2 separate regions of the Homo sapiens genome follow, and region 1 is linked to region 2. Evidence: fine-mapped expression QTL. A gene starts in region 2. The other region holds a variant in brackets. All regions are shown on one strand. Distances are between the middles of the regions.

Region 1 (2,916 bases), 20 kb after region 2:
CCAATATGGTAACCACTAGCTACATGTGGCTATTAATTAGCTAAAATTTAAAATTCAGTTCCTTGGTCACACTGCTACATTTTAGGTACCCAATAGCCTCACGTTGCTGAGGACCACCATAGTGGACAGTGCAGATACAGACCCAGATCATTTCCATCACTCAGAAAGTTCTATTTGACAGTGCTAGTCTGGATTGTCTGCTGTCTGATGATTGAGTTGCAGAAATTTCCACTTACTTATAGTCATTGGCATTCATAAGTAACCCCCTCTGCCCCTGTTGTACCTGCCATGGCCTTGGCCACCAACCTCTCTGGCTTTAACATTTGTGAAATGAGACTTGAATTAGACACTATAAAAGTTGCAGATATCCAGGTAGAAATTTAGCCATACAATGTCAGAATTGCCAGATTTCCCCGTTTGCACCTCTATGATGAGTTTTACCTATGGCATTAACTCCATATGGACAAAAGCAAAGTGTAATGTTAGAAAACACATTAATTACAACTAGTGTCCTGTTTGTAGTTTTACTGTGAAGGAAAACACATAATATTGACTGATAAATGGAATGTCTCAGGTACTCATGTTTGAATTTCAGGTGCGTTTAGTCATATTGACATGCTGGCACAACATAGAGACCGGTAGACATTTAAACAGCAGATGGATACAATGATGTGTTGATTCATAATGGGGATATGTTCTGAGAAAGGCATCATTAGGCAATTGCATTGTTGTGCAAATGCCATAGAGTGCACTTACACAATCCTAGGTGCTACATCCTGCTGCACACTTAGGCTGTGTGGTGTAACCTGTTTCCTCTAGGCTGCAAACCTGCACAGCATCTGTACTGAATCCTGTGAGCTACTGTAACACAATGGTAAGAATTTGTGTATCTAAACATAGAAAAGGTACAGTAAAGACATGATATGATAATCTCATGGGACCACTCTCATATATGTGGTCTGTTGTTGACCAAAACTTCATTGTGCAGCACATGATTTTGTAGTTAAGGATATAAATGAGAACATGATGCTTCTTAAGAAGTTTACTGATAGTGATAGCCAGCTTACAATAGCCAATATGTTTTCAACGTTTTTTCCTGGCTCTGTGGAGCGGAGCAGGAGCAGAAGGGAGCCTGAGGTGATGGGGCTCAGCCTTCTCTCCTTTCTATCTC[CAT/C]ATATATATATATACTTATATATATATATGTATATATACACGCCCATATATATATATACACTCATATATATATATACATGCCCATATATATATATGTATATATACACTCATATATATATACTCATATATATATACACTTTTTTTTTTTTTTTGAGACAGAGTCTCACTCTGTTGCCCAGGCTGGAGTGCAGTGGTGCGATCTCGGCTCACTGCAACCTCTATCTCCTGGATTCAAGAGATTCTCCTGCCTCAGCCTCCTGGGTAGCTTGGACTACAGGCGTATGCAACCATGCCTGGCAGATTTTTGTATTTTTAGTAGAGACAGCATTTCGCCATGTTGGCCAGACTTGTCTCAAACTGCTGAGGTCAAGCCATCCATCCACCTCGGCCTCCCAAAGTGCTGGGATTACAGGTGTGAACCACTGTGCCTGGCCCACTTTTATATATTTTACATGCTGGGGATCTGCAGATGGTTTCTTAAACAGAGCATTAGGGGTGGAATTCCCTACTAAAAGAAAAATAAAGTTTAAAGCAGTGCCATAAATATGTCTTAATTCTCCCCCCCACTGAGATATAAGATACTGTTATTATTATTTTTAGAGACAGGGTCTCACTCTGTCACCCAGACTGGAGTGACACCATCATAGCTCACTGTAACCTCAAACTCCTGGGTGATCCTCCTGCCTCAGCCTTCCGAATAGTTAGGAGTACAGACGTGTGCCACCATGCTTGGCTAGTTAAAAAAGTTTTTTTAGAGACAGTGTCTCGCTACGTTACCCAGGCTTACCTGGAAATCCTGGACTCAAGCGATCCTCCCACCTCAGCCTCCCAAAGCGCTGGGATTACGGGTGGGAGCCACTGTGCCTGGCAGTTACTGTTTTCTTATTGATGTTCAAATGGTCTTGTCCTTGGCCCCAAGAAGTTCATTCACGTTGGCTCCCAGATCCTTTTGTCATCAGCCACATAACAAAACCAGATGTGAGCCTAATATGAGAAATATTATTTCTTTACTTTAAATAAATAATAGCTTATTTAGAGTAGTTATTTTTGAATACTTTATACTTGAATACTGTGCTCGGCTATCCAAGTATAACTTTAAATGGGTGAACTGTATGGTATGTGAATTATATCTCTGCAAAGTTGCTATAGAAAACATTATTCATTTAGTACACATTAATGCTAGAAAAATTGAAACCCCAGGCCGGGCGCAGTGGCTGCCGCCTGTAATCCCAGCACTTTGGGAGGCTGATTTGGGTGGATCGCCTGAGGTCGGGAGTTCAAGACCAGCCTGGCCAGCATGGGGAAACCCCGTCTCTACTAAAAATACAAAATTTAGCCAGGCGTGGTGGCAGGTGCCTGTAATCCCAGCTACTCGGGAAGCTGAGGCAGGAGAATCGCTTGAACCCAGGAGGCGAAGGTTGCAGTGAGCCAAGATTGAGCTATTACACTCCAGCCTGGGCAACAGAGCGAGACTCCGTCTCAAGAAAAAAAAAAAGAAAAGAAAAATTTAAACCCCATGGTTACTTTTAAGGCTTTCATTTTTCTCTTAAATGAAAAGATACAGTAAGGCACAAAAGATTAATATTCTATCTCCCACGCATGCGATTTAGGGATTGACCACACCTTGCATTCCAGGGGCTGACTCAGCAGCCGGCTTTCAGCAGATTTCATCATTCCTTGGATGGGAAGGAGATGCAGGGTGGGCTTTGCCAAAGGCCAGTGGAAGGAGCTCAGGCTTGGCGG
Region 2 (2,916 bases):
CCATGTTGGACAGGCTGGTCTTGAACTCCTGACTTCAGGTGATCCAACCACCTCGGCCTCCCAAAGTGCTAGGGTTACAGGTGTGAGCCACTGCGCCTGGCCTAATATGCGGTTGAATCCGATTTTATTACGTTTTATTCAGTATTTTTGCATTTATATTTATAAATTAGATCGTGCCCTGTTTTTTCAGTTTTATTTTTCTTTTTTGTTGCTCTCTTTGCCAGGTTTTGGTATCAGAATTGTGTTTGCTTCCAAAACGAGTTGAGAAAGAGTTGGTGATTTGCTTTCATTATTCCAAAATTTTAATAAATTATAACACCCAATTCCAATTCCAAGTGCATCTGATTACTCTAATGGATTCCTGTGGCTTCTGGGTCTCTATGATGAAGTCCTCCCTGGCATAGGCTCGTATATGGGAGCTTGTAGGATGTCTGCAAGTATCAGCTCACAGTGCGGCCGCTGATGGCTTGGAGGACCCTCACGGTGCCTTAAAACTTTTGCCTAGACAAGTGTCACGGGAGCCTCTCGCAATACATGCCTCCCTTTTCTTTTTTTGGAGACAGTGTCTCGTACTGTCGCCAGGGCTGGTGTGCAGTGGCGCGATCTCGGCTCGCTGCAACCTCCGCCTCCCGGGTTCCAGCGATTCTCCTACCTCAGCCTCCCGAGTAGCTGGGACTACAGGCACGCGCCACCAAGCCTGGCTAATTTTTTTGTATTTTTAGTAGAGACGGGGTTTCATCATGTTGGCCAGGATGGTCTCCATCTCCTGACCTCGTGATCCGCCTGCCTTGGCCTCCCAAAGCGTTGGGATTACAGGCGTGAGCCACGGCGCCCGGCCTTCCTTTTCCTTTAAGCAGTATTAAAAAAAAAAAAAAAAAGTCCTGAAGGATGGTTTCGGTCTCTTTCAAGGTAGACCATACCCTTGTAACTAAGCTTAAAAAATTAAAATCTAATTTTCCCTCCCTCTCCAAAGCAGCAAGGGAAAATTGGATCCACGGCCACGTAGGAGCCCCTCACGGCACCAAACCCGGTGTCTCCAGGGACGGGCGGAGACCAGCGGGTGGGCTTGGGCAGTACGCGCTTTTCTCTTCCGACTTTGGGCCAAAGCCTTGTCCGGAGATCACAGTGTCTCGCTCGGGGACACGCCCTCTCTAGGCCCAGACTTGGTCCCCACTGGAGTTCCCAGCCCCCCTCCCCGCTGCGGCACGCACATTCCCAATGCCGGGCGGGGCAGGGCGCAGCAGGCCCGCCCTCGGCGCGCGGCCAGGCTGGGCTCCTCCCCTGGAGCTGCGGCCGGGAGGGCGGGCGGCCGGGGAGACGGGGTGGCGGCTGCAGCCCGGGTAGGGCCAGGAGACCCGGTCCACGTTTGCAAACGCAGCCGAACGCCCAGGCCGACCCGTGCCGCCCGAGCGCCGCGCTGCGTCCGCGCCACTCTTCTCGCCGCCCCGATGGCGTTCCGGGGCTGGAGGCCCCCGCCGCCACCGCTGCTCCTGCTGCTGCTCTGGGTGACCGGGCAGGCAGCGCCCGTGGCGGGCCTGGGCTCCGACGCGGAGCTGCAGATCGAGCGGCGCTTCGTGCCCGACGAGTGCCCGCGCACCGTGCGCAGCGGCGACTTCGTGCGCTACCACTACGTGGGGACGTTCCCCGACGGCCAGAAGTTCGACTCCAGGTACCGCGCCCTTGGCGCCCGGCGCGGCCTCAGCGGATGCGCGTCCCTCTCTCCGGACAGGCCTTTCCCTCCTGCCGGACCTCCCCTAGCTCCGCCCCGTGCAGCCGCGCTCCTCCCTTCTTCCGCTGCCCAGATCCTCCCGGACCCCAGACCCTCCGCCGCGGGTGAGCCTCCCGGCCCTCACGTGCCCTAGGCTGCCAGCCGGGGACTGGACCCTTGGAGGACCTTGAGCAGCGGGGTTGGGGCAGACCACGTCCTCCCTTTCCTCCCAGCGCATGGACACACGCAAAATCAGTGTAAAATAATCAGTGTAAGTGGAGGCCACGTTGCACAACTGGACCCCCAAGAGTGGATGTTCGTGCCTGCCTCTCTTCGCCCTTTCCTGTTCCTTCCCTCCGCTCCCTTGGGAATCTAGTCAGATGGTGCTTCTCACACAGAACAATGATGAAGAGGCTAGCAGCCCCAAACATACAATGAGCTGTTAACAATGTGTAGGTGTAGTTCTAAGTACTTTCCATATTGTAGTGAACTCATTTAATTGTACAGCAGTCTTGTGAGGTAGGTACTATCACTACCCTCATTTTATCAGTAAGGTAACAAGCAACTGCGGCTAAGAAACGTGTTTAAACAATGGAGTCAGATTGTTTAATCCAACTCCAGAGTCTGTGTGCGCAACTACCACTGCCCTTCCTTTCCTGCCATACAAAAACCTCTCTTGGGGCTGGGCGTGGTGGCTCACGCCTGTAGTCCCAGCACTTTGAGAGAACGAGGCGGGAGGATCGCTTGAGCCCAGGAGTTTGGGGCTGCTGTGAGCTATGATCGTGCCATTGCACTGCAGCCTGGGAGACAGAGAGAGATCCCATCACAAAACAAAACACAACACGACACCTCTCGTGGGCAGGAGGTAGTCCAGGACCGTCACTCTGCTTTATACCAGGCCCTATATCAAGCCCAGAACTCCTTCTCTCAGCTCTGCCTCAGGATCACAGCACTGCTCTCCCGTTTCCCTCCAGTTTAGGTTCGGGGTTAACAGGCCTCTCTTCGTCCAGCACCAGGCTACTCCTCGCCAAGGCTTTTGTTACAAACCCTGGTCTGTGCCAGCACTTCCCTTCGCGAACACTAGATCAGGCAGAGAGAGCTATTTGTTGAGCCCCTGCTATGTGCCCCAAGGCCTAGGGTCATTACGAATATTTTGTAGACTCTTGACTTTTTTGAAGTTCCAGACAATGAATATACAAAAGCTGTTC

The links. PIP is the estimated chance that this variant, and not a neighbour inherited with it, causes the effect.
Region 1: its variant is fine-mapped to the expression of FKBP9 in whole blood (INTERVAL, PIP above 0.99).

The regions. Positions count from the first base shown.
Region 1 is chr7:32,976,615-32,979,530 of GRCh38, forward strand. All of the region lies in intron 4 of FKBP9 (FKBP prolyl isomerase 9), which reads left to right. Among named protein-coding and RNA genes, the nearest start is that of FKBP9, 21 kb to the left of the region's middle. RefSeq lists an enhancer at 2,264-2,916. The variant CAT/C (reference allele first, on the strand shown) is at 1,172.
Region 2 is chr7:32,956,126-32,959,041 of GRCh38, forward strand. FKBP9 (FKBP prolyl isomerase 9) reads left to right here and starts at 1,315. Exons shown (of 10, transcript NM_007270.5): 1 at 1,315-1,669. The coding sequence starts at 1,449. RefSeq lists enhancers at 162-1,112, 962-1,011 and a silencer at 1,102-1,571.